2 separate regions of the Homo sapiens genome follow, and region 2 is linked to region 1. Evidence: fine-mapped expression QTL. A gene starts in region 1. The other region holds a variant in brackets. All regions are shown on one strand. Distances are from middle to middle. Region 1 holds the start of CDAN1 (codanin 1). Region 2 overlaps TMEM62 (transmembrane protein 62).

The links. PIP is the estimated chance that this variant, and not a neighbour inherited with it, causes the effect.
Region 2: its variant is the best candidate, but not a certain one, in a credible set for the expression of CDAN1 in whole blood (TOPMed, PIP 0.68).

The regions. Positions count from the first base shown.
Region 1 is chr15:42,731,913-42,747,906 of GRCh38, forward strand. It overlaps CDAN1 (codanin 1), which reads right to left and starts at 5,216. Exons shown (of 28, transcript NM_138477.4): 1 at 5,101-5,216; 2 at 4,390-4,868; 3 at 3,963-4,166; 4 at 3,598-3,767; 5 at 3,349-3,462; 6 at 3,188-3,266; 7 at 2,314-2,434; 8 at 2,026-2,135; 9 at 1,185-1,274; 10 at 421-496. The coding sequence starts at 5,190. It overlaps TTBK2 (tau tubulin kinase 2), which reads right to left. Exons shown (of 15, transcript NM_173500.4): 15 at 6,818-14,345. The coding sequence ends at 13,883. It overlaps TTBK2-AS1 (TTBK2 antisense RNA 1), which reads left to right and starts at 7,206. Exons shown (of 3, transcript NR_186317.1): 1 at 7,206-7,323; 2 at 9,541-9,651; 3 at 10,090-11,290. RefSeq lists silencers at 4,443-4,732, 4,823-4,962, 5,153-5,402.
Region 2 is chr15:43,141,206-43,157,199 of GRCh38, forward strand. It overlaps TMEM62 (transmembrane protein 62), which reads left to right. Exons shown (of 14, transcript NM_024956.4): 5 at 5,288-5,429; 6 at 7,550-7,674; 7 at 7,824-7,946; 8 at 10,585-10,740; 9 at 13,467-13,626. It also overlaps the pseudogene FDPSP10. Among named protein-coding and RNA genes, the nearest start is that of TMEM62, 16 kb to the left of the region's middle. The variant T/G (reference allele first, on the strand shown) is at 8,916.

The sequences.
Region 1 (15,994 bases):
ATTTAAGGAATGCCAACTGTGTCAAGTGCTTTAGATAGATTTTCTGAGATGTGAATTACAGTATTGTTTCACAGGTGAAGAAACTTAAATTCCAAGGTTAAGCATGTGCCTAGGGTCACTAGAGCTAGGATCTGAAACAAAGCTTGACTACTTACTAAGCCTGGGCTCTTTACCACAGCACAAATCAGGGAAGGCAGCAGCAGGCTAGAGGAGCTGCAGGGCCCGGGATGTGTCAAAGAGAGTGCCCTGGCTTTTCTGTGGCCACTGGAGTTTCAGCCACTCCGCGAGGAGTAGAACTCTTGTTCAAATTCCAGCCCAGGACCTGCCAGGCTGTCTGCCCTATCCCAAAGTGCAGCCGTTAAGTGGCTGCCTGTGATGCCTGCTGTTTAATGTGGATTAATCTCTTGCTGGGGCTGTTACCTGGAGTAGTTGTTTTTGGAAAAGCCGAACAAAGTGGCTGTGGCTGCAGGCTGCGGAGAGCTGACCCATCATGGCCCTGAGGAATAGAAGGCAGGAATGAAGGGTGTGGAAAGGAGGGAGAGGGAGAAAGATCTGAGAGAAGCAGCCAACCCCTGGACTTCCCAGCCGTTTACCAGGGACTTGAGCAGACCTCAGCCAGAGCCAGCCTGCAAAGGGACACTGAAGGCAAGGGACACTCCCTCAGCACCAAGGTCCTCCGAGGCTAGAGGTGCACTTAACCAAACAAGAAATCATGCGACCACACCCCCCGACCGTCTTCAGCCACACTAACAGGCGGCGGGTTTCATGAGCAATGTGAAGGGAGATGACTGGACTGAGGTTCGCGTTCTGAGCCCAGGCATCTACCTGCACAGTGACCAGACTTGCCCAAATTAGAGGATGGAGAAGATGGAGGCTGGATGTGTCTAAGCAGTGACTTGGGCCAAAAAAACCTCAAGCAACCTGAGTTAAGAGCTTTGGACTTTCTAAGCAATTGCCACTACAGAACAAGGATAAGACACCTGTGAGTGGAAGGAGCTGGAGAGACACATCCCTTTCGAATAGAGGCAGAGTTATCAATAACTAAAGAGATTTCGGAGGATAGTAGAAAACAGCTAATGGCTGGTAGGAGCGGGGAAAACCTTCCCTCCTCCTCCCTCCTGCCACCGAGCAAGCACTGAGCTACTCATTGCCAGGAACAAGAAAGACAAGGTCTGAGCACCCACCTGATTCTGCTGCCCAAGCCCTTCTCAAAATCCCAGCCAGGCTCCTCATGGTGATCTTCCCACTCTCGCAGCACCTCATAAAACACATCCCTGACGCATAAGAACGCCTGATCAGCCGAGGCACTCACTCCCACCAGTGCCTTCCTGCCCCTGGAAGAACTATCCGTAGCCCACCCACCACCTTTTTTTTTTTTGGAGATGGAGTCTTGCTCTTGTCACTCAGGCTGGATTGCAATGACGCGATCTCAGCTCACTGCAACCTCCGCCCCGCCTGGGTTCAAGCGATTCTCCTGCCTCAGCCTCCAGAGTAGCTGGGATTACAAGTGCCCACCACCACGCCTGGCTAATTTTTGTATTTTTAGTAGAGACGGAGTTTCACCATGTTGGCCCGGCTGGTCTCAAACTCCTGACCTCAGGTGATCCGCCCCTCGGCCTCCTGAAGTGCTAGGATTACAGGCGTGAGCCACCACACCCGGCCAGCAGCCCCATTTTTAAATTTCTCCAGAGTTCTCTATATGATGACAGTAGTGCTACAGACCAGCAGCACATTACAGGCTTCATGTACTTCTGTGGGCAGTGACAGTTCATCCTGGCACACTCTTGCTTGAGAACCCTGAGACTAAAACCATACACCTGTGAGATGGCTTGCTAAGCGCCGGGGTTCACAGATGCACATGAGAATGAAGCCAGGTGGTCCCTATGATGGCCGGCAGGAAGGACCTGGGGGGACTAACCCACCACCTGTTGGTGCCAAACTCCTAATTTCTATGAAACCAAACAGCTGCCTATTCCAGAAAAATGTCATCTCATTCCCTCCCCAAAAAGTCCCTTTTCTTATCACCTCTGTTTCTTAAAAGTATGAAAGGCTCGGTCACTGGAGAAGTTGGCACGATTGTCAGTCTCTGGCTGAAAGGAGACAGCTTGAGTAGAGGGAGGCATCACCAGAGAGACCTAAAATACAGCAGGAACGTTAGGAACTGCAGGGTCATGCTGAGAAAACTTCTCCCTCTTATTCTTGCCCAGAGTTAGCTCACATTACACTGAAGTGTCGTCAGCAGGGTTGCCTGAATTTATGAAAGCTAGGAAGGGTTAGGTCCAGGCTAGTGGGCAACTAAGCTGGGGTTACTACCTTGGCAACACTGCCCTCATAGGCAGCTCGAAGGCGGCCTTGCAGAGCTGGTGAGAAGCACAGCAGCCGCTCATTCTCAGCCAGCAGCTTCAAGGTCCCTTTGTCCAGGTTGGAAAGAACCCTGCAGGGACAAGAGCACCTATGACTGAGACCAGAACACAGACTGCAAGTAGGAAGCAAGCACCTGCACACCACAGAGGATCTCTAAGGCATGGCGCAGGTATGCAAGCCCAGATATGTACTGCAAGGTCATGGGCCAAGGATCAAAGATAATGAAAGTCAAGGGGAGGATATGAGACTTTACAGAGCAAGGACCAAGACAGCAGGACAGGAACATTACCCAGAAACCAAAGCTCAGCTGCCAAGACCACAGGGGTCCATTTCTTTTTCTTTTTTTTTGAGATGGGGGTCTCTGTCACCCAGGCTGGGCTGGGCGTCACCCAGGCTGCAGTGGCGTGATCTCACTACAGCCTGGACCTCCCAGGCTCAGGAGATCCTTCCACCTCAGCCTCCTAAGTAGCTGGGATTATAGGCGCACTCCCCCACACCCGGCCTTTTTTTTTTTTTTTTTTTGGTGGAGATGGGATTTTGTCATGTTGCCCAGGCTGGTCTAAAACTCCTGGGCCTAAGTCACTGTCCTGCCTCGGCCTCTCAAAGTGGTGGGAATGCAGGCGTGAGCCACCACACCTGGCCCGATCTCAATTCTTTCAGGGACTACATTCATAGCCTTAACACAAAATTAAAGAAAGATTATAGGTAGGAGAAGGTCCAGGACCACTGCCCCTGTGTTAAGCACCAGCATATATCCCAAGCAGCCAGAGAGCTAAGCAGATGATGAGAATGAGGCCCAAATGCCTCAGCCAGGGAAACTCACTGAAAGTGACACTCCAAAACCTGCACTGCAAAGAAGACACAATCGTGGATGCTTTGGAACAGTGGACTTTCCAGGGAATCTAGAAGGACAGTACCAAGCTGTCAGTTAAGAACGGTCCCGTTTCTAGACCCCATGTCTCAAAAGGAGGCTTGCTCACTGACCTAGGACAGCTGGACTTAGTTCAGGGTCGCTGTCCTTGGCAGTCACCATCCTCCGGGCAGTGAGGAGCTGAAAGACGAAGAAAAGCTCCAAGAAGAGGTTTGGTACCAGGTTCTCTAGATAGATACAAAAAGAAAGCCCATGGTATGGGCACCATTTGGAGCCAAGGCTCAGTTCCAAGTGCCTTACCAATTCTCTTACCCATAAGTTCTACAAGTGTCTCCACTCCCGCTCCCTCCGCTCTCACTCACCAGCAATGCACGAGGAGTAAACAAGGGCTACAAGCTCCAGGCGCTGGCGGGAAGACACTCTGGCAGGGTCTGCAGGTTCATCTGTGAGGCTTCCTGTCCGGCTGGGGAGGGGCGACCCCAATTCTGGGGTGGGACAGGTGGGGGTAGGTGACTGCTGCAGCTGCTTAGAGCTATGGAATAAAGAAATTTCATGAGCAGTCAGCTTGGCTTCCCTGCTACGGCCACACTCAGGTCACTCCAGAGAAGATACCAACAGCCCAGGAGACAAACCCAGAGTCCCCAAGAGGGAAATCAATTTCAGGGAAAACCCCTGAAGATCCCCCACAGCGAGGAAACCGATATCCCCAGGAGCGGCCAGGCCATACCGCTCCTTCCTGAGCATCTCTCGCTCCTCTTGCAGACTTCTGCACCCTGGGGGAAGGCCAAGGCCCCAAGGGCTAGTGTCCAGGGCTGAGGGTTGGGAACTGGGGACACAGCTGATTGGGGGTGAGGTGAAGCAGGTCTTGGGCTTGGAGAGTGACCGCTCTTCGCTCACCGGAGTTGGGTTGATCCTGCGAGAAGGCTTCGTCCTGCTGAGAGTAGCCACAGGTTTTTCTCAAATTCCTATCTTCAAACATCTCCCCTCCACCACCGCAACAGCTAGACCTCTTGCCAAAAAACCCCACAAAAACCCTCACCATCACCCCCAGCCTTCTACCCATCCTGGCGCTCCACTGCGGAGCGCCGAGCTCGAATGACTGACTCCCCAGAGCCTTCGTGGTACCCATCTCCTGCATGAGAGCTGAGTCTCACCCTGTAGGGCCGGGGGGAACCGAGCCTACGGGAGGGAACTCCTCCAGGTTGCTGAGGTTTGGCGGATCAGACAGCGTGAGGCTGGGGCGGCTGGGGCTGCCAGAGCCCCTAAGCCTCCGGCCCCCGGCTCCGGGCAGGCTCTCCCCGCTGACCCCCTCCTCCAGGCCGCGGCCTCCACGCTCGCGGGCCGGCCCCGGGCCCCGCCTCCTGCCCCCGCGGCGGGCCAGAGGGGCCTCGGCAGCGGTGCTCTGGGCCTCGGTCGGAGGGAAAAGCTGGCTGCGCGCCCCGCGGCTACCCCGCGGCGGGCCTCCCGGCCTCCCTGGCAAGGCTGCCGAGGCGCCCGGGGTCTTGGCGGGGGTCGGGGGCCCCTGCGGGAGGACGCGGCTGCTCTGCTCCCTCAGGAAGTTCAACAGGAACGGTACGAATTCTTTCCGCAGGGCCCGGAGTGAGCTCAGCGCGGCCGCCTCCCCAGCGTTATCCTAGGGCAGAAGCACAGGTGGAGGGGCGAGAGGGTCAGCCGCCGGCCCGCGGGCCGTGAGCAGCCGGGGCCGTAGGGCGCGCCTCGGGTGGGCGGCCCGGGCAGCGGCGCCCAGTTGGAGTGCACTCGGCCCGGCTGGCAGCCAGGCGCCCTAGAGGAAGGGGACTGGAGGGCTGGACTCCACTGCGGGAACCGGCTTCGAGTCAGACCTGGGGGCGTGTCACCGCTGTTACCTCCGAACCCTGGGTGCTGCGCGCGATCCACCGCACGACGGCTGCGACCGACACCTCTTCTCGCAGCAGCGACTCCAAAACGGCCGCCATCCCGGTCGGGGCGCTCTGGGGCGACTGCGCAGGCGCCGGCGCGCCGCGGGCGGCCAGGGAGGGGCGGGGCCGGCGGCGGGGAACGACCGTTGGGTCGCGGGATGGGGAGGGACCCGGCTGGCGGGGCGGGGCGGAGCCGGCTGTTGCCCAGACCCACGGAGTCAAGGCCTCGCTGAGTCCTCAACCCCGGCCGAGAGGCCGGTTGTTAGGAGGTGAAATGTGGATCACAGCGCCTGGGGAGGCCCACCTTGGCTGCCCGCCCTGGAGCGACCTGAAGGGAGGGATTCGAGCTGGGAGTGGGGCTGCCGCGGGTCGGACGCCCCTCTAGGGAGACCCAGGACCCGGGAGAGAGGTAGAGGGGAGCAGAGACAGCCACCAGCTTCTATCTTCTGCTCTAAGCACATTCTTTCACGAGTTTAAGTTTCCTAGATCCAACTGGCACCACCCCAGAGAAATTATAATCTAATCTTTCATTTTGACTTTGTTCTTCTCAAAGGCCGATTTTTCAATCCCTTGGCCGAGCAGTACCCATCGGCTTTTCAGCGCTCACCATCAACTGACCATTTAGGAAAGAATTATTTCTAGGAGGTTCTTAATAATCCCCAAGCCACAACCCTTAAAGTGCCTCGGGCCACCCTGCACACAGAATTGCTTGTATGTAGCTTTATTTACTTAAGTGGGTTTACATGAGGTTAATATTTCAACTACTTTGCAGTTTAGATGTCAGTAAGCATATCATGATTAGCTTCTGGGAGCTTGAGGTTTGTATTTTTGGGTTTGGTGTTTTTTGTTTTTGTTTTGTTTTTTTTGAGACAGGGTCTTGCTCTGTTGCCCAGGCTGGAGTGCAGTGGCGTGAGCACGGCTCACTGCAGCCTTGGCCTCCTGGGCTCAAGCAATCCTCCCGACTCAGCCTCCCTAGGGCTATAGCCCAGCTAATGTTTTGGCCGGGAGAGGGCAGCAGATCCAAAGTGCTGGGATTATAGGCGTGGGCCACCACGCCCGGCCTGAGTAATTTCTTAATCTCCTTTATTTAATTTTATTTTGAGATGGAGTCTCGCTCTGTCACCCCCGGGGCTGGAATGCAGTGGGAGGCAGAGGTGGGCGGATCACGAGGTCGAGAGATGGAGACCATCCTGGCCAACATGGTGAAACCGTGTCTCTAATAAAAATACAAAAATTAACTGGGCGTGGTGGCACGCGCCTGTAGTCCTAGCTACTGGGGAGGCTGAGGCAGGAGAATCGCTTGAACCTGGGAGGCGGAGGTTGCAGTGATCCAAGATCACGCCACTGCACTCCAGCCTGGGTGACAGAGCGAGACTCCATCTCAAAAACAAAACAAAACAAAAAAACCTGAGAGAGGATTTTGAAGGTTGCTGCTCAGTGACAAATCAAGCAAGGGAATCCAAGCGGAGAAAAACAGATGGCACGAACATTCCATGTCAAACCAAACCAGGAGGGGTGAGGCAGTGCCCTTGTGAATGCCTCCTGAGAGTTGCTCTGGTTCAAAGGAAGGTTACGGGCGGAAGGATGAGGGTGGGGGTGCAGGAATCTCTCTAGTGGCAGAAGGGGTATTTCCTATGGAGAAGGAAAAAGTACCTCCAGCCAGACAGAATAATGGACTAAAAAGGAGCTTTTAATATTTTAATTTTATTACAGGAAAACATCTCCTAACTGCAGGGACACTTAACACCTAGCTTCTATTCAGTCCTGGGCTGCTTTTTCTAGGGAACTTCTAGATGTGGTACTGCATTTACAGTAACACTATCTGCTCCCCGTTGATCTTGTAACATCTGGTGTATTCAATAACTTTATTAAATTAGAAAAATATTTTCCACTTTTGAAATCCAGACCATCACACAAACAGAACTAGATTTTGCATGCGGAATGAATATTTTATTACTAGGTTATAAAAATAAAATACAAAATAATTTTAAAACAGAACTTAAAACACTGTACAAAGCTTTAATATGATACAAATGGGAAAATTAAATAAATAATTACACTTTTATGTACAGGTGGCCTATACAAAAGCACTCCATGTTTCTGCCGATACTCTGTCCTTGGTTGCCTGAGCAAAATTGTATAAAGGGAGCTGCTTGGAGGGGAAAGGAACACAATAAAACGCCTCTGGAGGTATTTCAAAGAGTAGTTTCTCATCTCTCTGATTTCAGGAAGAGGAGAAGAGAGGGAGAGAAAAGTGGAATTATTAAAGTCATCTAACTCATTGGTCTTGTTCAACAAGAAAGAATTCTGGTTTGTGGCTGAATCTGATTTAACAGCTGCCAATAGCTCATTACTTCTAAGATGTATATCTAATTCAAAACTAGATGCTCCCCCCTCCCTCTTTTTTCCCTAAAAGCTGGGAACTTGTAAGTAAATGGCCTAGTGAAATAGACACTGGCTATTTTAGAAAAAGGGTCAGAAGGTAGACCAGGAACTATGTATCAAGGAGAAGTAAGTGAGGCTCAAGCCCAGGCCACCTAGGCTGTGTTTATTCAGTCCACCCAATCCAATGTCAAAGCCCCAAGTGGGCCAGTGTTACCTTTATCTTCCCATCTTTGTATTTCTGAAAGCTTTGTCACCTCAGTGGACTACTTTGGCTGATGAACAGTTCAAATAGAAGATTGTTTTGGAAAAAGTCCCAAGGGCTTTCCCCTTCCTGGGTAGCTCCCTATAAGTCAAATTCAAGTTCTGGTAGCCTTGTTTACCCCTTGTAGGCGAGTGAAGAATGCCCACACAGAGTTCAGATGTGGTGAAATGCTGGGCATTGATTCCTCAGGATTTAAACTGCATATTATTAGAGAAAAAGAGCATCATATGGCAAGGGTAGTCTATATAAAAACTTGGTTTACTCAATGTTTTTAATTAGGCGAGTGAACACTTATGTACATAATATTAAATAATATTAAACTAATAAAAAGAGAGGTAAAATTCCTATCCATTGTTATTGTAAAATTATATCATCAGCAAATTCTATAGTCACATGGGCTCAAAGATCTGCCTCATCCAATCTTGTTCCCTAGGTCAAGGAACCCAGAGCCAGGGTACCTGGGAGGCATGGTCAGCATCGCCAGTGTACATATATTCTGTGCCCATACTACCACTAACGCTTCCAGCTGAAGAGGAGGCAGAAAACCGTTACATTGCACAGGGCCATGAAAGGAAAGGCTTCACTACTTTTACATGTTACCTTAAGACCAAAGATCCAGCAAAGTCTAAGGAAATATCCTAATCATTACTGTGTAATGTTACTTTTTTGCTATTCAGTGTCTTGAGATTGTGTGGAAATTCAAGGTGACCTGATCTTGTCACATACTTTAATTTTCTGATCCAAATTTGCTGAAAGGGAATAATTAAACATCAAGCTTAAATATTTTTTTAAGTAGGAGCAGACAATCACAACTGAATTAGAAGACGTCTTAATGGGCATAGACTTTATTTTTGTTTTACTTTTTTTTTTTTTTTTTTTTGAGACGGAGTCTCACTCTGTCGCCCAGGCTGGAGTGCAGTGGGGCGATCTTGGCTTACTGTAATCTTCTGCCTCCCAGGTTCAAGCGATTCTCCTGCCTCAGCCTCCTGAGCATCTGGGACTACAGGCGCCCGCCACCATGCCCAGCTAATTTTTTGTATTTTCAGTAGAGACGGGGTTTCACCCTGTTAGCCAGGATGGTCTCGATCTCCTCACCTCGTGATCTGCCCGCCTCAGCCTCCCAAAGAGCTGGGATTACAGGCATGAGCCACTGCGCCTGGCCTTGTTTTACTTTTTAAAATTTCTGTGAGCTGCTCTAGAAAACTAAAGGACGAAAACTTTACTGTCATAATTCCAAGTTCAGTCAGGGATTTCTCAGAATTGAGGTGTGCAGCATCCAGATTCCCCTTTATGTGGATAGGGATCCCTGTGCCATGTCTTGCACTTACCTAAGAACTATAGGAATTCTCCATGTACCTCCTACAGTTTTTCTAGCAGTGTTGGACAATGGATTCTAAAGGTTCCTGAGACTTTGTTAAATTTCTCATAATTCCAGAGGGAAGGCCAAAATATTGAGAATACTCAATGATAGGATGAGTTTCCACTCTACTTCCTTATCCTCAAGGCACACACCAGAGTTCCACTGGGTGAGGACAGGGAAGTAGGATGTCCCAACACCCTCTGAGGGTTTTCATGCATTAATCCCGCCATATGGGCTGATGGTTGGAACTGCCTTTAGTTCTCTAAGTAAAGGTCTAAAAATGCACCTGTGGTTTCTGAACTTGGGTATACGCTGATACATAAGGACTACCATAGAAGTTACATGCCTTAATCCTGTAATACTTTTGTGTGGTATCATTCTGCTAATATATTGTCCACAGGGCCAAACCCCAAGTTACACAGCGCAACAGTACTTGTCAACCACTCCATCTCCTCAGTGACACAGGTGCTAAAGTACCTCTCCCCTGAGGCAAAGTCCCGACACATCTGTGGTAAGTGCACATAAACAGAAATGGGCAGATTTTGAAAGTGAATGCAAACAACTTAATTCCAAAATACATAAACATGACAGAAGAAGTGGTTCTCTAACATATGCCATGTTTGATCAATATAAAGAATAAGTTTTTAAAATATAAAAGACTTTGATCTCCAAGACTAAATCTAGACTTATCTGCAAATAAGTAAATTTTCAAACAGCCAGGGGAAAATGCATTTTTTTCACCGAGTCTCACTAAATCATTCTGAATTCTGGATCCTGCTTCTCGTATCACCAATTCCTAATGTTAGGAATGTAGAACTGTCTGCTCTTGGGGAAAAAAAAAGCATCTGTTTTTAATTCAAAGCTCTGGGTATAGAAAAACTAATTATGGTTTTAGCTATCTGTGTCTGGGTTTATAAAACATGCACCAATGTACACTTTCTCCTTGTAGATTGAATGCAACTATAGAAGTATTAGCATAAAAATATGTGGCCTGGAAGGAATCTCTGAAGATACTGAAGAACCTCAAGTTCCCTACATTGCTAGGAGCCAAGGGAAGGAGACACTGTACACCTAGAGCGCTGAATTAGCAGCTGAGGTTTTAGTATTTGAAAGCAAATAATATAAAGCGAGTAATGTCTACAGTGGGTCTCAGTTACCATTTGGCTACTTATTTAGGACTCGATTAACTTGGCAACTTTTACAAAAAACATTCACATCACAACATGCAACTTAAAAAACAGTTAATGTAACTATGCCACTGTCAGCAAGGCCAGCTTGCATACCAGAGTTAAGAATGAGAGTGTCTGTCTGCCTAGGGCTTAACATTCAAAGATATTTATAATCTGTGTTTTAAGGTTAAATTTTATATGACCCAGTTTTCCTTCTTTGTTCACTATACACTAAAATTAAACGCCTCTACGCTGTGCAAGAAATCACTATGTGTGATTTTACTATTTCAACCAATCCATAGACCCTGAGGATTTGGCAGCAGAATTCAGGAGAAATGCTACCTAAAGTGATTGAGCTGTTGCTAATTCTACCTTCTGTTCCACTCAAGTACCTCCAGGGACTAACAAGGGAAGGCAAGGGCAACTGTGACTGACTAGGTAACCAGCTATTCTGTTGTGACAGAAGAAACCAGGTAATACTTGATTTTCAAAAGATAATTTTAACTGCTGCCCTATACTACTTTTAGTATAGTTTGGCTTGACCTTAATAGCCATGTCCCTCATCTTAGATAGAATAACCAAATTGGTTTAAAATTACTTGATCTATGTCACTGAAACCTGAAATATGCCATCACTAAGAGAACCCCCAAATAAAAAATAAAGAACTAAAAAACACAACCAAACCAAATCAAACCAAAAACCTCATTCTCTGTATCATACTTTAAAACTAAAATAAAAATCCCTGTGTCACAGGTGCTTGCTCAGGGCTGCCAACTTCTATTTTTCACCTGAGAGACATCTAAAAGCGCAAACTATGCTTGTAAAAACCAAAAAGTAAATCTCTACATAGGACAATACTTATAAGCAGACCTATTGATACCACTTATATATAATTAGTCTGTTTTCTTTAGAAAGTATCAGAGCAGAAACGTCTTTGGTTAATTCTTTCCTCTACATGCAAAATAAAATATTCTTAAACGATGGACTGTTTATCTCTGGATCTTGATGAGTTTGTCAATGCCATTTAGAAAAGGGGACAACACACTAGAAAAGTTGAGATAAAAATGGAAGGAACCAAGAAAGAGAGAAAACATTCAGTTGCCACATTCCCATCACTGTCAGTTCCAACTGCCAGCAGAGAAATGCCAATAAGAAATAAAATCACACACACGTACCACAGTTGTAGCTTCATCAGCTTTTCCAATGATTACTACTAGCATATTTCCGACTAAAGGGGTCAGGATTTAAAGCTAGCTACTTTTAGCACAATTTAGCTAATGCAACAGAAATATGACAATTTCTTCATTATTCCCCCGACCCCCTGCAAAAAAAGTGAGATGAAAAGAGGAAAGTAGAATGGCAATTTTTAAGAAATGTTTTAAAAATCTGTCAGACTCATCATCATCCCAGTTTATCCACTCTAACTATAAGGAGAGAACTATGTGATTAACATGACAAATCTCTGAACCAGTATTACAAGCATGTCCCTGTAATTTTTTCCCTATTAAAATCTTTTTGAAATGAAAATTAAATAACCTATCTTGGCTTGTTAAATACTGCCCACCCTTGCATTGTACACAGGGAAGGCAAGAAGACTCTGAGGTGTCACATGCCAAGAACATAGTTTCAGAAAATGAAGATAGGCAAGGCCCAAGTGTACATGAGGCACACAATAGAAAAGGAATTTCGCCATCTGTGATCTCGAAATTACAAATGGAGAATGACAAAGAATGACTCTATATAAGGATATGTCTCTCTATATATTTATAAATATTTATATAATTTACCATGAAGACATGCAAGTAGTGTTATAGCAACTATTATACAATATAATACAGAAGGACTGATCTTCCAATATTACAGTTGCTTTAGATAAACAGCAAGTATGTCTTATCTATTGCATTCCTCTGGAGTGTTTGAAACTGGAGAGAAATTAAGATTCCACACTATGCTACATTTCTTATAAGAGACGTTATATGCCTCAATAGTGTTTTGAGTTTGTTTTTTTAAAAAGCTCAACACAGATAAAGAGAACAAGAGAAGTTCAGTGCAGCTTCAGGGCAGCTTTGATGCAGCATTAGAAGATGTTCACTTGGGGAGGAAATGTATTCCTTTCTTTTTTTTTTGTTTCCCAATTCAACTGTATTAGGTTTGGCAGCAAACACAAGGTCAAACAGAAAGCACATATGTTTGCTAGAAGGCAAATTTCAACAGCAAGCAGACCAATTTACCTGACCTTAATAAGGTCTTTACAACACAAAACACCTAGAGAGTATAAAAACAGCCCATTTTAAAAGTCTGGTAGACTTTCATTTGCCTGATTCCTATTAGAAGAGTGAGATTAGAACAAATATCTTCCTCTTTACAGCTTCGTAAATTGAGATTGTATGAAAATCAGGCCAAGAAGCCCAAATGTTGAACTAAAACACAGGAGAAGCAGGTAATAAAACATTAAAAAAGAAATATTTGCCTAAATTTATTTCCCCAGATATTAATTCCTTATTGGCTAAATGTATAAAATACAAAGTTTGAGGATTCTAAGCCTCAATAATATATCTAATTTATTTCTAAATCTCAAATCACAGTCCAAAGCATTGTGCTTCCCTCGTATCATCTTGGATGCTGATATTACAAACAGTTGGAACCCAGAAGACTTAAGGAAGCAGTCTACTCTGGTCAGTTTTCCTTCTACTCAAGTTTCTAAAGGAGGACACTTAACAGAGATGAAAGGGCATCTTCTATCTTGAAGGCTATTAACCCACACTTTCTTTCTCTCCCTAAACACTAAAGCCTGCAAAATAGCTCTAGTTAGACTTTTCTTTCCTTTACCTAACTTTCTTATTTTTCATAATAAAAATGTAATATGTTAAGAACTCTTGCTCTAAAAAAAAAAAATCAGGGGGACCTAAAAAAAAGTAATTGGATTTGATAGTACAACTAGGACCATAAAATAAAAGCAGAGAGATTGAATCAGACGAGACATACAAAATTTTAAAAAAAAATCTGAACTCCAGGGAGGGTACTAGGAATGAGGCAAAGTAAAGGTGTTCATTCTCAATACACGAAATAAACACACAAGCCAAATATACATGAATACTGGCTCCCTGGCAACAGACTTCTTATATAATCTAATATCTGATCAATGACTCTTCAGGGTGGGAAAGTTTTGAATGAAAATATCAAACAAGAAGTTTCACTTTTGCTATATAATCTTTGAATTGAGGCTTAAAAAAATTAGGCAACCCCCCTAAAATTCCATTCTATCTCCTATCCTCAACTCTTTTGTTTCAAAGGCAGCTTAAAAAATGAGAGCTCATTTTAATGAGTTTCTCCCCCTTGGATTTTTGCTCTATTTTTCCTTCTTGTACAAAGACATTGATTCCTAATCTACTTGCTGCCTGCCTTAGGTAATTCCTTATCATGTATTATGTCTTCTTATAAATAATTGATCATGTTACTTTCTTTTGCAAGAGAAGATCAACACTGATTTTTTTACATAGAAAGTACAGGGACACACATGCATCAGGTTTAGGAGGAAGATCTCACACCTTTCAAAGAGATGCAGCCTGGCTCCTATCTGCTGAGTTTACTGGCTGGCTTACTCTTCCCTTGGGGGGTTTTAGTGCTGGCTGAGTGGTGGTGGAGGCTGCCGGATCCTTTCAGGCCATTCTTGCTGGGTTTGCAATGCTCCTGTTGGCAGGACCTCCTGGAGGAGGAAGATCCTGAGTGGCTGGGAGGTGACTTGCTTCTCCCCAGATGTGGGGACGAACTCCTCTGGTCATGGTGGGGCCGTCCAGCCCTAGATGGTGAGGAACTAGACGTGCGAGGCAAGGATGAGCTTCGAGGAGAGGCACTGGGACTCCTGCGAGGGACAACTGGACTCTTGGGTGGTGTTTTTGGATTGTGAGGAGATCCTGGACTCTTGCACTGAGTAGTGCTCCGGGGTTTCTGAGATCCATTTTGAAGAATTTGGGCCAGGCGGGAGAAAAGGTCTGAGTCGGAGTTACTACTCCCTAGGACTTTATATCTGCGTAGCCTTAAAAGAACAGAGAAAATATATTTTAATTTTAATTCATTTCAAGTGTGCCTAAAAAGTCACAATGTCCCAAAATCATAATGTGAATGTGTAGAAATCAGAAAATAGACTAACAGGATACAGGGTTACTCTGTCATATACTAGTTGTATGACCCTGGACAAATTCTTCAATCTCTCCCTGCTTTCAATGGGAATACTGTCTATCTCACAGGGTCACTGAACAGACCAAGGGCAGTGACCCAAGTACGTAGATGAACATCTGCCATGAAGAAGCCCTTAAATGGTATTCGTTCCCTTCCTCCTATGCCATGTTTATTCTGCTAATTTTCAGATGAATTTAACTAGCATGTTAAATTGTCTCTAGCATGTTAGCACATAAGACAGAGAGTAAACCATACTGTGTAAGGATGTTAGGACAGGAATCCTACAAACACGAAATCCCACAATGTAAGTGTTTTTTTTTTTAATTTTCTTTTTTCTGCCAAGGATCTGTCACCCCTAAGTCTTCAACATGAACTACACTCAGCAACAGGAGGAACTACAGATAAATGTACATTCAACTCATTTAATAATTTACAAGAGAAAAGAGTAGTCATTGGTTTCTGTGGACCTCAGTTTCTATTCCTGTCAATAGTCTGGGATTAAGGAGGGTGGAGGCTGGAACTGACTGCCCACTCCATACTGGCAACTGAGCTTGGGCCTCAGATTTTTTTTTTTTTTTTTTTTAAACAGGGTCTTGCTCTGTCACTCAGGCTGAAGTGCAGTGGGATGATCACAGCTCACTGCAGTCTCGACCTCCTGGGCTCATGCAATCCTCCCACCTCAGCCTCCTGAGTAGCTGGGATGACAGGTGTGCACCTGTAGTGCATGCCTGGCTAATTTTTATATTTTGTGTAGAGACGGTTTTGCCACATTGCCCAGGCTGGTGTCAAACTCCTGAGCTCTAGCAATCCTCCTGTCTCAGCCTCCCAAAGTGCTGGGATTACAAGCATGAACCGTAGTGCCCCGGCCCTTGGGCCTCAGAATTCTTAGAGTATTCATATGAATAGCAAATGTCTTCTTTGTCCTAAATGTCTTTCTGGTTTGGCCTAAGAATCAAAGAAAATGGAACATATAAAAGTGTTTTTATAAACTACAAAGCAGTGGTCCCCAACCTTTTTAGCACCAAGGAGCAGTTTCGTGGAAGACAATTTTTCCACGATGGGGGGAGGAGGGGCAAGGATGGTTTCAGGATGAAAGTGTTCCACCCCAGATCATCAGGCATTAATTAGATTCTCATAAGGAGCGTACAACCTAGATCTCTCCCATGTGCAGTTCACAACAGGGTTCACGCTCCTATGGGAATCTGATGCCACTGCTGATCTGATAGGAGGCGGAGCTCAGGCGGTAATGCCTCCTGCCGTGCAGCCCTGGGGTGGGGAGGGCCTGCTATAAAGCAGTCTACAATATATTTTAGTGGCAATGCCAAATTACGTAGTGAGAAGGACCCTAGGGCCCCTCTAATAATAAAACTATGGTAATGGAAAGTGTACAGCAAAGGAACAGACAAATGAATGGAACAGAGCATTGAATCCAAAAAGATCCCCATGTTTCTATGGGAAATGAGTATTGCAATATCACTAACTACTTGGAAAAAAACTTCACATCAT
Region 2 (15,994 bases), 410 kb after region 1:
TGGTCTCCATTCATTCTGAGGGAGGAGCAAAGGGCTCTGTTCCTGGATGTGGGTTCCTGCTCCATAGCTGATGACTTTAAGTGGAGCCAATGCCCACTTACCATTCTGAAAATCCTTGGGTGCTTAAGCGTTATGCTAAATCTACTCTGCCTGTGTTCTATATATGGAACAACAAAGCCTGGATAATAATAGCACATCTCTTTACAGCATGGTTTACTGAATATTTTAAGTCCACTATTGAGAACTACTGCTCAGAAAAAAATATTCCCTTCAAAATATCAATGGTCATTGACAATGCACCTGGTCACGCAAGAGCTCTGAGGAAGATGTACAAGGAGATGAATGTTATTTTCATGCCTGCTAGCGCAGTATTCATTCTATAGCCAATGGATCAAGGAGTAATTTCAACTTTCAACTCTTACTATTTAAGAAACACATTTCATAAGACTATAGCTGCCTTAGATTATGATTCCTCTGATGGATGTGGGCAGTCAATTGAAAAATTTATGGAAAGGATTCACCATTCTAGATGCCATTAAGAACAGTTGCAATTAATGGGAGGAGGTTAAAATAACAACATGAACAGGAGGGAAGAAGTTGATTCCAACCCTCATGGATGACTTTGAGGGGTTCAAGACTTCAGTGGAGGAAGAACTGTAAATGTGGAAATAGCAAGAGAACTAGAATTAGAAGTGGAGCCTGAAGAGGTGACTAAATTGCTGCAATCTTATGATAAAACTTGAACAGATGACAAGTTGCTTCTTATGGATGAGCAGAAAAAGTGGTTTCTTGAGAAGGAATCTACTCCTTCTAAATATGGTGTGAACATTTTTGAAATGACAACAAAGGATTTAGAATTATACATAAACTTAGTTGATAAAGCAATAACAGTGTTGGAGAGGATTGGATTTCTTTGGGTAAAATGCTATCAAGCAGCATTGCATGCTATAGAGAAATTCTTTTTTTTTTTTTTTTTTTGAGATGGAGGCTTGCTCTGTCACCCAGGCTGGGGTGCAGTGGTGCGATCTTGGCTCACTGCAACCTCCGCCTCCCGGGTTCAAGCAATTCTCCTGCCTCAGCCTCCTAAGTAGCTGGGACTACAGGCGCCTGCCACCATGACCCGCTAATTTTTATATTTTAGTAGAGACAGGGTTTCACCATATTGGCCAGGCTGGTCTTGAACTCCTGACCTCGTGATCTGCCCACCTCGGCCTCCCAAAGTGCTGGGATTACAGGGGTGAGCCACCGCGCCCGGCCAAGAAATTCTTGTGAAAGGAAAAGTCAATTGATGTAGCAAACTTCATGGTTACCTTATTTTAAGAAATTACCACAGCCACCCCAACCACCACCCTGATCAGTCAGCAGCCACCAACGTCAAAACAAGACCCTCCACCAGTAAAAAGATTTTGACTCGCTGAAGGCTCAGATGATCATTAGCATTTTTAGCAGTAAGGTTTTTTTTTGTTTTTTTGGTTTTTTTTTTGAGACAGGGTCTCTCTGTCACCCAGGCTGGAGTGCAATGGCGCGATCTCAGCTCACTGCAATCTCCACCTTCCAGGCTCAAAGTGATCCTCCCACCTCAGCCTCTCGGGTAGCTGGGACCACAGGCGTGAGCCACCATGCCTGGCTAATTACTGTGTTTTTTATAGAGACAGGGTTTCTAAATGTTGCCCAGGCTAGTCTTGAACTCCTGGGCTCAAGTGATCCACTCACCTCGGCCTCCCAAAGTGCTAGGGTAACAGGCGTGAGCCACCATGCCCAGTCAGTAGAAGTATTTATAAATTAAGGTATGTGCATTGTTTTTCTAGACATGATGCAATTGCACACTAAATAGACTATAGTATGGTGTAAACATAACTTTTTTTTTTTCTTTTGAGACAGGATCTTGCTCTGTTGCCCAGGCTGGAGTGCAGTGGCACCATCTTGGCTCACTGCAACCTCCACCTCCCTGGTTCAAGCGAGTCTCCTGGCTCAGCCTCCTGAGTAGCTGGGACTACAGGCATGTGCCACCATGCCTGGATAATTTTTGTATTTTTAGTAGAGACAGAGTTTTGCCATGTTGGCCAGGCTGGTCTCAAACTCCTGACCTCAAGTGATCTGCCTGCCTTGGCCTCCAAAAGTGCTGAGATTACAGGCATAAGCCACTACGCCCAGCCGTAAACATAACTTTCATACACACTGGGAAACCAAAAAATTCATGTGACTCGCTTTTTTGCAATATTTGCTTTATTGTGGTGTCAGGAACCACAATATCTCTGAAATATGCATGCAGTTTAATGCTTTGTTTTGGCTAATGGTACTTTTAATATTCCACACGGGCTTAAAAAATTGTTTAAGTCATTGATACATAGGAAAAGTCATTTATATCAGAGCTTGTCAGCCACACTACTGAGGTCACTGGGTTTTCAGAATCCTGAGATACTGATTCTCCTGGCCTCTGTGGTGGCTGGAGAGCCCAGTTAGTCACCTGGCTGCTTTATCTTTTCATCCTGTGTCATACAAATATTAAAATAATCTTTATTTGTCACAAATGTGAAAAGGCAAGGGATCTCTGAATTAGAAACCAATTGTCTAGTTTCATTATGTTTAGATTCCTCTTTTGGTTGCAGTGCACTTTTCAGCCTCAGGGTATTCAGTAGCTTTGTTCTGCATTGTCAATCAATCATGTAGCAAATATTTATTGAGAATCCATCCCTAGTTGGATAGTGTGAGAGATACATGAGTTAATGTTAAAAATTTGGCTTTTGCCTTCAAGGAACTGATAGTGTAGTTAAGGGACATCAGAATTATTTAGGAAACAATTAGAAAATAACATGAAGAAATGGCCGAGGAAATGCTAGATTATTTGGTACACATGATAATCACTATGAGAAATTAGAAAAGCATGGGGGTGGACATAGAGAAGACTTTATAAAAGAAGCAAAAAGTGTGTCCAATCTTAAAAGATGAGTAGCATTTGAAGAAGTAAGACATGCCAAGGAGGATATTTTAGGCAAAAAGATAGGTATGAAGAGATCTTTAAAAGCTACAGACTGGGAAACCAAAAACTGAACTTTGCAGGGGCAGTAAGAAAACTGGTGTCACCAGAATTAACATTCATACTGAGGACTAGTATGACACTGGATAGGCAGCCTAGGGCTAATTTATGGAGGTCTTAAGTAACAAGCATAGAAGTTGAGATGTGATGGGTAATAGTTCATAATTCAGCATAGGTTCTTAAGGAGGCAAGTAACATAATTAAAATAGTGTTTTATAAATGGCAATCCCACAATAAAAAAGGAAAAAGATGGGATAAAAAGGAAAAAAGAGATATTGGAGTTATGTGGACTAAATAGGAGGGTCCTGCAATAGTCTAGTCATGATAATGAAAAGTCATACCCATCTGAACTAAGTTCTTGGATATGGAGATGGTGACATCAATTTGAGGATGATAGGTCAAAAAGCACTGGTTAACTGAGTTTGTATGATTAGAGTCACCATACATTGGAAGAGGAGGTTGTTCTCTTTTGTTAATGTGAGAAAGGAAGAGGACAGAGATGAAAATCTTTCACTTCCTGTTAACTGTTTGTATCTTTCATGGTGACTGTGGGGAGTTAGGAGACATGTTCAAAAGTAATTAACAGGACTTGGGGCTGAGTGGTTATTGGGAAAGTAAAGTGAATAGTCACTTTAAAGTTTCTTACCTTTGTATTTTTGTTTTTAGCCACCTAAACTTTATCTGAATTTAATAAATGGCATTTTACTAAAAATATAAATATTACAGAAATACCAATCTGAAGAAAAAAAATTAAAGTTAAATCTTGATCTTAAAAATGTCCCAGAGAGGAGGCAGAGCTTGCAGTGAGCCAAGATCGCGTCACTGCACTCCAGCCTGGGCGACAGAGTGAGACTCCGTCTCAAAAAAAAAAAAAAAAGATTCTGAGGAATAACTGAACATAAAATAAGCAAGAAAAAATATAAGTAAAAATTTTAATTTAGAATAAAACCCTGAAATAGAATTTTTTTTTTTTTTTTTTTGAGACAGAGTCTCATTCTGTCATCTAGGCTGGAGTGCAGTGGCACGATCTCCACTCACTGCAAGCTCCGCCTCCCGGGTTCAAGCCATTGTCCTGCCTCAGCCTCTGGAGTAGCTGGGACTACAGGCGCCCGCCAGCACGCCCGGCTAATTTTTTTGTATTTTTAGTAGAGATGGGGTTTCACCATGTTAGCCAGGATGGTCTCGATCTCCTGACCTCGTGATCCGCCTACCTCGGCCTTCCAAAGTGCTGGGATTACAGGCGGGAGCCACCGCGCCTGGCCCTGAAATGGAAATTTAAAAAATACCAAGAAGAAAGGCAGTAGAACTAATTGACATTGTTTAAATTGGGTTTGACTAATTTCTGAGTATTAGTTGTAATGTCTATATCATATATTTACTCGGGTTACATTATATTTGATGGTTGTTGTGGCCCACTAGCATATTAAATTTCAGGAGTTTATTTGTATTTTTAAATATATGCTGTTAGGTAAAAATCATGTAAGACACTTAGATAAATGATAATACCAACTTTTCTTATAATGTTCTGACATTTGAATAATATAGGTATGCCCTCCAATAAAATCTATACTTTCCTTCTTATTTATTCAACACATACTTAATGAGTGCCTGCCCTGTACTGTGTTACTCATCCTTTCTTCCTGGTCTTCACTCTGCAGTTTTATGGACACCTGAACACTGTTGACGCTTAAGGTGGTAAACTTTCATTAGTGGATATAGACCCTGTGTATGTTATCAATATATCTTTAGGAACTGAAAAAGATTTAACAACCCAGACCTAGACTAATATTTTTTCTCCTTGCTTGAAGACTTCATCTTTGCAAGTCTTTCTTGTGAATTAAGCCTCTGTAGTCCTGTTTCAAGAAGTAGACAGCTTTTTTATCTCACTACACCAAGAATTCTAGGTACTTAGTATGCCCTCACTAAATCTGCAAATGATTGATAAATACTGTTCCACTGGATTTTGATTTCTTTTTGAACATTTAATGGACTCCCTAAAAGAGCCGTCTTACTTCTGAACTTGGTGAACTTGTATTTGGTTATTGAATGAGTTTGCATGAGTCTTTGGGGACAATGGGAGAAAAACTTTGAAATTTCATCAGTTTATCCATTGTGGATCTAGTTTAGTATATTTCTGTCAGATCAGCAAATCTCGTTTTCAAAGGAAGGTAAAATCTAGCGTATTAGGGAAGGAATTTTAAAGCATTGTCTTTTTATTACACTAACACCCTCCTGTCTTCTATTTTTTAGGAAATATTCTGCTGTACGTAGAGATGGCTCTTTCCATTATGTCCACAGTACTCCCTTTGGCAACTATTCGTTCATCTGTGTAGATGCCACTGTAAATCCAGGGCCTAAGAGACCCTATAATTTCTTTGGAATTTTAGATAAGGTGCAGTAAAAATCTTACTTCCCTTTGTAGCTTACTTATTTTTTCATGGATACGTGTGGATCACTTAAAGTTATCAAAAGTAAACTAGTTGTTATCTAGGAATGCTTTGGAGAAATTTAACTTGGTTACAGGTATGGCTAGAAGTTACTGGCTATTTCAGCACTATTTTTGCTATCCTTTTTCTTGTCCCAAAATCTGAGAAAGAAGTACCTCACACTTTATGGAGTAAACATTTATTAAATAGGTACTGAGTACAGGATGCACTTTGCAAGTTACAGGACATACAGCTTTGTGTGGTATATTCCTAAGTTCCCACAATTGCCAGTTCTAACTAGTGTTTATTTTTTGAGACGGAGTTTTGCTCTGTCGGCCAGGCTGGAGTGCAGTGGTGTGATTTCAGCTCACTGCAACCTCCACATCCCAGGCTCAAGCAATTCTTGTGCCTCAGCCTCCCAAATAGCTAAGATTACAGGCACGTGCCACCATGCCCAGCTAATTTTTGCATTTTTAGTAGAAAGGGGGTTTCGCCATGTTGGCCAGGGTGGTCTCGAACTCCTGATCTCAAGTGATCCACCTGCCTCAGCCTCCCAAAGTGCTGGGATTACAGGCATGAGCCACTGTGCCCAGCTGGTCTGTATTTTTTTAAAGAAGAGAAGGATGACTATTGAAATCAATAAGTTTATTTTCAAGTATTTTGACAAGGCTAGGTGATTGCTGGATTTAAACTGTGTGGAAAGTCTCATTTGAGAACCTCTTATTATTTCTTGGTACAGTAAATGCCAACTCATTATTTAATAAGCATATGCCCCTAAGTAAGACATATGTGCTCATATGAAAGAATACAAAAGTGATAAGATCAAGTTCTTAGACTCTTAGAGTATTTAATCTAGTGGTGAGGTATAAGACCAGTATAGAAATAAATATAATAAAGAGCAGAATTTGCTAAATTAGAAGTAAGAGGTTCAGAGTTATACGAGAGTTCGAAAGAATGTGAAATCAAGTGAACAGAATATTGTCAAATGCATTGTGTTACTTTAGGCATTTTATTTAATTAGGTTCTATTTTGTTTCTTATCTATCAAGTGTCTTTAGTCAGGGTTGATGAACTTATATTAAATCCCATTCCTTAGTATAGTGTTTTTTAAAGGTAGAATTCAAGGATCATGTACATGAAAACCAACTGGAGTGTTACAAAATACAGATTCCCTTGCCTTGCCCCAGACTTATCAAATTAAAAACCCTGAGGGTAGATCCCAGAAATGTATTGCTGTAAGCACCTTACATATAATATTAATGCATATTTACATAGGTACCAGTTATTTTTTGAAATCAACTTTTGAGGTATGATTTGAGTACTATAAAATACCCTCATTTTAAATGTTTGAAGAGTTTTGACAAATGTATATATTGGTATAACTGTCACCACAGTTAAGACATAGAACATTTCCATCATCCTAAAGTCTTGTCATCCTTGTACAGTCTGTCTTCACTTCCTAGGGAATTACTGATTGGTTTTCTATCAGTATAGATTCATTTTGTTTGTTCTAAAATTTTGTATAAATGAAATCATACAGTATGTACTCTTGGGTCTGGCTTCTTTTGCTCAGTATAATGTTTCTGAGATCCATCCGTATGATTGTGTGTATCAGTAGTTCTTTCCTTTCTGTTGCTGAGTGCTGTTCCATCGTGTGGATGTATTACAACTTGTTGATGGTTTCTAGTTTTTGGCTATTATCAGAGCTGTTATAAACATTTAGGTAGAAGTCTTTCCATGATATTATTTTAGAAGTTTAGTTTCTGTATCCTCTTTATTAATCGTAAAGTGTTATACAAAGCTGTAAAGATTAGTGATGACTTCATTTCGCAGTTTCCTTATCTATTAAAAGAGGATAATACCTACCCTACCTATTGCAGAGTTATTTTTAGTATCAAATGAAATATAATGTATGTGAAAACAATTTGAAACTTACAGAGGTCCATAGAGGTCATTAACTAGTAAGGTTTAAGGCCTAGACACATATAATAATTATTATAAATCTTCAGAGGAGTTTTCTAATCTGTTGACATTAGATTTTAGCCTGAGCCCTAATTTAAGATCCTTCCATTTTTCTCCCATCTCAGAAAAAGATGGAGGAGCTCTTATTACTGGCCAAGGAAAGCAGTCGGAGCAACCATACAATTTGGTTTGGACACTTTACAACATCCACTATTCTTTCTCCATCACCAGGAATCCGGTCAATAATGAGGTGAGACAAGCTTCCAAAATCAGAATTAATTTGTTTTTAGTTTTTTTATTTTGCTGTTACCTATTCTGCTTTTCTGGCAAGACATTTTTATTAGTTTGGCCTCACGCGTTATCTTTGTTCATTTATTTCATTTATTTTTCATTGGTTAGTTCGGCTATAGCTTATTTGTGTGGACATCTCCATACACTTGGTGGACTGATGCCTGTTTTGCACACTCGTCACTTCCAGGGCACTTTGGAACTTGAGGTGGGAGACTGGAAGGATAATAGGAGGTAAGGGAACCTCCCCATAGAAGAAAACTTATACACATAAGTTTTGCCAAAGCAATGATAGTTTTCTTACTGATATCATGGGTGATCACAGTTAAAGAAAAACTTGTGATATTTCTGTTTTTTTAAAGTAATATATGTCTCTGAAATCTTTGTCATTTTGCGGAAACCTTGTCATAGCAGGGATGTTTACTATCACTATGTTACATTGGATTTTCAAGATATGTCCATTAGGAATTGGACTCAAACTCTAGTGTGCACAAGAATTATGGAGGAGCTTATGAAAAATAAAAATTTTCAGGCGCTGCCTCTAGAGATTTTGATTGTGTTGGTCTGGATTAGGGTCCAACAAATTACATTTTTTTTTTTTTTTGAGACAGAGTCACGTTCAGCTGCCCAGAGTAGCTGAGATTACAGGCACCCACCATCATGCTCAGCTAATTTTTGTATTTTAGTAGAGATGGGGTTTCACCATGTTTGCCAGGCTGGTCTTGAACTCTTGACCTCAGGTGATCCACCCGCCTCGGCCTCCCAAAGTACTAGGATTACAGGCGTGAGCCATGGCGCCTGGCCCAAACTGCCTTTTTTAAAAGCCCTCTGGGTGGTCTATGCATGACAATTTGAGAAATACTAGGACTAGAAGTGTCATGTTTTTCCTCCTGAATTTTGTATCTACCATACTGGTTATTGTTACAAGATGGTAGTGATTTAACTTCTTCAAATAGATGATAGTTGGCTTTTTTAAGGTTAAAGTCTCTCTAAGAGAAAATATGTTTATCAAAAGCATGTAGTGTAGTTAAATATATGGTTTTTTCTTTTTTAAAAAGAAGTATTTAAGTGAAATAGTTTATCAAGTTTTGAGGAGTATCATCTTATTGTTTAACTATTACAGTTATTTAATTTACACAAACCCTGTGCTCTCAGATAATAGGTACTCAGCAAAGGTTTGTTGAGCTGAATATGTTATCTTTT[T/G]ATTTTTAACTACTTCCATTAATTAAAAAGGAACTTTACATCTTGGAAGGTACTTTCTCATTTTGGTTGACTTTTTAAAAACTGTGTGAGTTATGCTTGAAACGTGTAATTATTTGGCAACTATAATTACTTTGAGCTAAGAGTTGTCTGTTCATGGCTGTGAGGCTGTGGGCTGGGCTATGATTGCCTTTTGTGAGATAGTCTTACTAAGCCTTGACCAGCTTCTTTATTTCTTCTAAGTGCTCTAGTTACAAGTTGTGATGTTAATTATGAAGGCATTTCCTTTCTCTCTCCACCAGTTTTCCTGTGTCCAACCCTGGGGTTTTATTTGGAGCGTACTCCAGATAAAAGGACCTAAACTTTACCTGCCCTTATAAACACTTAAATTGTGTTAGTTACAATAGAATAATTTTTAAAAACAGTATATTGGAAATATTAGGCTAGGCCTTGTTGTAGATGCAGATAAATCCAGAAATATCAGTGGCTTAACACAAATGTTTTTCATTTGTATAAATTCAATATGAGTCAGAACAACTCTTATCCATGGGATGAGTCAGTAATTCAGACTTCCTCCATCTTAAAATTCCTATTTCGACATGTCGATTCCAGGGCAGGGAAGAGAGCAAGGAGAACTCACACCCACTCTTAAGTACTTTGGACCACAGGCATGATATGTGTCACTTCTCTTCACAGCCCATTGGCCAAAACTAGTCACATGGTCCCAACCTGATACCAGGAGACTGGGAAATTCAGGGGAATGTGTAGAGAATTTCGTGAGCACTATTGTTTCTGCCATAGTGAATCATTTCTTTTTTTAGTTCTAAAAGTTAGAAAATATAAAACTTTGGTTATTCTTTAATGAATATTTTATACCTTTTGTTATTGCATTTGGAAAATGAAAACAACTTTAATTTCTTTGAAATTATAGAAATAAATGTTTAATGCTAGGCATGGTGGCTTACGCCTATAATCCCAGCACTTTGGGAAGCCAAGGTGAGGGGGATCACCTGCGGTCAGGAGTTCGAGACCAGCCTGGCCAACATGGTGAAACCCTATCTCTGCTAAAAATAGCCAGGTGTGGTGGCGGGCACCTGTAATCCCAGCTACTTGGGAGGCTGAGGCAGAGGTTGCAGTGAGCCAAGACTGCGCCACTGCACTCCAGCCTGGGTGACGGAGTGAGACTCCATCTCAAAAATAAGAAAAAAAAAAAAAAAAAAGAAAGAAAGGTTTAAAAGAAGCATGAAAGATTTCTAATTTTGTTCATATCAACCATTTTAATATTTTATGTAGCATTGTTGATGGGATGAAGAATGTCAAGTATTAGGGTTATAATAAATATTTTAGGTTCAAAATTGTCTTAAAGTACAGGGATAAGATGAGTTACTTCAACAAGTATTTATTTAAAAATTAAAGAGTACATGCCGTGTACCAGGTGTTGTTCAAGAGCACAGTTGAATCCATTGCCCAGTCAGAGGCAGTTATGTGACAAATGTGAAGGATAAAGTGATGGGGTAAGGGAAGAAAGAAAGAAAATATTACTTAATCTGTATTCAAATTAATCATGTAAAAAAGTCCTAGTTATGTATTTTTATATTTGTTCTGTATATTACCTTCATGACCTCTTACAATGTGAAGTGACTAAATTACCTTATCATTATCTGGTCTTTAGGTACCGGATTTTTGCTTTTGATCACGACCTCTTTAGCTTTGCAGATTTGATCTTTGGGAAGTGGCCTGTGGTTCTTATCACCAATCCTAAATCACTCCTTTATAGTTGTGGTGAACATGAACCACTAGAAAGACTTCTTCACTCAACACACATCAGGTATGTAGCAATTTTTTAGAATTTACTTTCAGTTTGATAATGAAGGAGAATAAGTCATTGTGATTGCATTCCCATGTGAAAGCTATGAGATGCCCCATTTTAGTTTTCTCAACAACCTAAACATTATATAAAGATAGATTGCTTACTGTTTTGTTTCCATTAAGTTAAAAAGCATATCATTTTTTTAAGCTGATGAAATTTTAAAAACCATTCAGAAATCTATAATTCTACCATTATTATTTTTGTTTTATTTTATTCCAGCCTTTTTATTTGGACGCTTTTACATTGCTATAAGCATAATGTACATATTCCTTTATAGTCTACTTTTTAAAATTTGCATTATATATCAAATTTTTTTTCATTTGTTATGTAGCCTTCTAAGAAAGCAAAAGCTATATATATAATCCTTATGGAATTGAAAATTCAGTTGGCAAATGAATTTGTTTTGTTTTGTTTTGTTTTGATTTTCGACAGAGTCTTGCTTTGTTGCCCGGGCTGGAGTGCAGTGGCCTGATCTTGGCTCACTGCAACCACTGCCTCCCGAGTTCAAGCTTTTCTCATGCCTCAGCCTCTGGAGTAGCTGAGATTACAGATGTGTGCCACCACGCCTGGCTAATTTTTGTATTTTTAGTAGAGAGAGGGTTTCACCGCGTTGGCCAGGCTGGTCTCGAACTCCTGACCTCAAGGGATCCGCCCTCCTACGCCTCCCCAAGTGCTGGGATTACAGGCTTGAACCACCATGCCTGGCCATGAATTTGATTATATAGATTAATAGAATCCAAATGGGACATTAACATTCTTTTTGCAAAGAGATATATAACTTGTTTCAAATGTAAGAGCACTTTTTAAAATATACTTTTACAATTTATTTTGAAAAGTAATACAATAGAACAACCTTTGGAAAATAGGGTAATGGGATTTTAAGTATGTTTTTCTCCACTTCTAATAGAACTATTATTAGCACTTCTGAGTATTTCTTCTCAGGCATTCTCTCTTAAGATGTTTTTATATAATTATAATCATAAGGCACAGTCTATTCTAATTCCTGATTTGTTTTCTTTCAGCACAAAGAATGTACCACAGTTTTTCTAACCATTTTCATATCTCATTGGTGAACTTTTAAGGTTTTTCTTATTTGTGGATGAATATCTGGTACATATATATTCTTCCTTCACTTGAATAATTTCTTTAAGAAAGAGTTCTAGAAGTGGGATTCTAGGTGAAAGAATTTGAATTCTTTTATGACTGTTGATAAAAATTGCTCAATCCCTTTTTTTTTGGAGCTAAAATCACTATTTTTAATCATGGTAAGCATGATTAAACAAAGTACACATGGCATAAAATGTACCATTTTAACCATTTTCAAGTGTACAGTTCAGTAGCATTAAGTTTGCTTCAAGTTTACATTGTTTTGCAACCATCACCATTATCCATTTCCAGAACATTTATCATTTTCTAAAACTGAAACTTTTACCCATTAAACAATAACTTCCTGTTCTTCCCTCTCCCACAGCCCCTGGCAACCACCAATCTACTTTCTGTCTCTATGAATTTGACTACTCTAGCTAACTCATATAAGTGGAACCATTCAATATTTATACTTTTGTGACTGGCTTATTTTCATTTAACATGATGTCTTCAAGGTTTATACATGTTGTGGCATATGTCAGAATTTCCTTCCTTTTAAAGGCTGAATAATGTTCCATTGTACATTGTGTGTGTGTGTGTGTGTGTGTGTGTGTATATACACACATATGTATACACACATACACACATACCACATTTTGTTTATGTGTTCAATGGACACTTGGGTTGCTTCTAACTTTTGGCTATATTGAATAACGCTTCTATGAATATGAGTGTACAGATAACGGTTCAAGTCCCTGCTGTCACTTCTTTTAGATATATATCCAGAAGTGGAATTGCTGGATCATATGGTAATTATCTGTTTAATTTTTTAAGGAGCTGCCATACTGTTTTCCATGGTGGCTGCACCATTTTACATTCCCACCAGCAGTGTATCAGGTATCCAATTACTTTCAACAACAGATGCTAATTTATCATATTACCAAGCAATATGAATGCCAAATTCACAATACTCTTATTATTATTGGATATTATGCTTTAAAAAGTATTTACTAATTAACTTGTAAAAAATGGTACCAAGATGTTTACATTTATTGTTTTCATCACTAATGAAATGGAACACACATGTGTCAGTCAGGTTTTTTGGTGGGAGCTGGATATCAGGTTTAGGTGTCATACTCTCTGAAAGGGCTTGGTAGCCTAGTTCTGGTTATAACCCTGTTTCTTTGGGACAGACACCCTGGTACCAAATGAGTAGATGGTAGGCTTGACATTAGATTAACAAAATGAGATTTCCACCCTATATTATTTTCCTAAGAGAAAAATCAGTACTTCTGGAGTTTCTTCAGAAAGAACTTTGAATCTACCTTACCTAGATTTGTCAAAAGAAAATTGATTTTTCTTTCTAAAAAGTAAAAGAATAGTTCCGAATTTCTTACCAGTTCAGTTTTGCTAATTGTCCAACTCCAGAAGCCACCATTCGGAAAGAAACCAGATCATATCAATAGTGGCTCCTGCTGTTGTACAATATGATGGTTCTGCCTATACGTGTATATCTGCAAGTTACAATAAGGTTATTCTCCTTTGCAAAAACAATGACAAACCTCAAACCATGTGTTTTATATATGCTCTCATTTTAGAGTCTTGGCCTTTTCCTTATCCTCCATTACTTCTGTCACAGTTAAGATTGATGGAGTTCATTTAGGCCAGGCTGTTCATGTGTCTGGTCCCATTTTCGTACTGAAGTGGAATCCTAGAAACTACAGTAGTGGGACACATAACATAGAAGTAATCGTCCAGGTAAGTTAGTAATTTATATTTACTATGTAAATGATTAAGCTGTAGCCACAATGAATTCTGGTTTGGAATTTTTTAGTCAATTGGTAATGAAACCATGTTTAAAAAAAAACTGGGGGCCGGGCATGGTGGCTCACGCCTGTAATCCCAGCACTTTGGGAGGCCAAGGCAGGCAGATCACCTAAGCATAGGAGTTCGAGACCAGCCTGGGCAAAACAGTGAAACCCTGTCTTTACAAAAAAATACAAAAATTGGCTGGGCACAGTGGCATGTGCCTGTAGTCCCAGCTACTCAGGAGGCTGAGGCAGGAGAATCCACTTGAGCCCAGGAGGTAGAGGTTGCAGTGAGCTGAGATTGCACCACTGCACTCCAGCCTGGGCAACAGAGCCAGACCCTGTCTCAAAATAAACAAAAAAAGTGAAAAAATTGGGGCTGAGGCTGGAGGATCGCTTGAGGCCAGTAGTTTGAGACCAGCCAGGGCAACATAGTGAGACCGCATCTCAACAAAAAAATAAAAGTTAGCTGGGCATGGTGGCGTGCATCTGTAGTCCTAGCTACTTGGGAGGCTGAGATGGAAGGATCGCTTGAGCCCAGGAGTTCAAGGTTATAGTGAGCTCTGATTGTGCCAGTGCACTCTAGCCTGAGTAACAAAGCGAGACCCTATCTCAAAAAATAAATAAATAAAAATAAAAATAAATTGAATACACTGTATTTAGTATATTCTGAAAATGGGCACTTGGAATAATTCTAATATTAGATTAAAAACTAGGCAGAGGAGAAGAGGAGTGGCCATAGACTCCCTTTTTTTAGCCCCAGGAAATCATTCTTGTGTTTTCTTCCAACTTTGCCCAGAATCTTTTCATAATAGGGGCAAATTCCCCAGTATACCCAAAGGTAATAGAATAAGTCAGAAAACATGTATTATGTATCCATGTCTTTGATTGCTGTCTCTAATTGTAGGACAATTGTGTCATTATTTGAAAGCTTCAGGACACAGAATTTTCAGTGCATCAGAAGCACTTTTTTGTTAGAGGAATAAGCATTGTTAGCATATGCAGTACCAGTTTGCCTTTTCTTATTCTGATTCAATTTAGGGCATTTAATTTATTAGCACCTGCCAGAGTAGAAAATAATAATCATTACCAAAATAGAGCAGTTTCATTAAACTCTTAAGGCGATAAGCTGTGCTCAGAAATTAGTTTCTTAAACACACACACACACACACACACCTGTCAATTTCTGCAACTTTATGATTTGATGACAGTTGTTAACTATTTAATCTTCTAATATTAAGACTTAATTTGAAACACTAAATAATTTTTCAGAAAACATATGTAGTTATTTTCATTATCTTTTTTATCCCCCCTACAGAGACAGGTTGAGTAGGAAGAAACTATTTACTGAGCTCCCTCTAAGGAGATGCTAGGCACTTAGAATTTTTTACTTAATCCACAAAACAATCCTTTGTTGGGGGTAGTTTTACCCTTGGTTTGTAAATGGAGAAACTTGTACATCTGCACAAAAGAAGACACTCTGCTATGCCATCCATCTTTAAAATGTTCTGTGTAGAAGGAAGAAAAAACTTACAGCAGAAGTAGAAGGAGAGATAGCTGGGGATGAACCCTTAAGGTCTTTCATATTAGAAGAAGGTGGATCATTTTAAAGAGACTTGAAGGTTCATGTGCACCTAGAATAAATTATTCCCTGTCTTCACAGTCACTACAGTCTGGAGTGCCTCAGAACCCCAGTGTATTATTTTCTTAATAAGATATACATACAACTTCTGTAGTTTTATGAAGAAAAAAAAACCATAGCTTATATTCCTTGAAACATTTCTGGCTGCTTAGTTGAATCCTTAGTAAAAATGTAAAATCACATACTTTTTGTATGTTTAACATTTCTTACAATGGTATCAAGGTATAATTTATACATAATAACATAATAAACCCTGTATATTTAAAGTATACAATTTGGTGAGTTTTGACATATGTATACATCCTTGAAGTCATCGCCTACAAACAATATGATACATTTCCCTCAAAAGTTTTCTTGTATCCTTTGCAATCTGTTTTCCTTACATCCTCATTCTCAGGCAAGGACTGATCTGTTTTCTGTTTTCTTATATGTATAACTTTAAACAACCTACTGAGTATTAAATAGGGAACCTGGTCCCTTCATTCATTCATGGGAAAGTTCTGTCCTTTTAAGTACAGTAAACTGTAGATAAGTCAGATTTGAAACTCAAAATCCGTGGGAGAAGACACTTATTATCTAATATTTTACCTACTCATTGTATTTATTGAATATCTATAGGTTCCCCACAGTCTAGTAGCAACTAGACCTTTAGATCAATTTTCAATGTGGGTCCTGG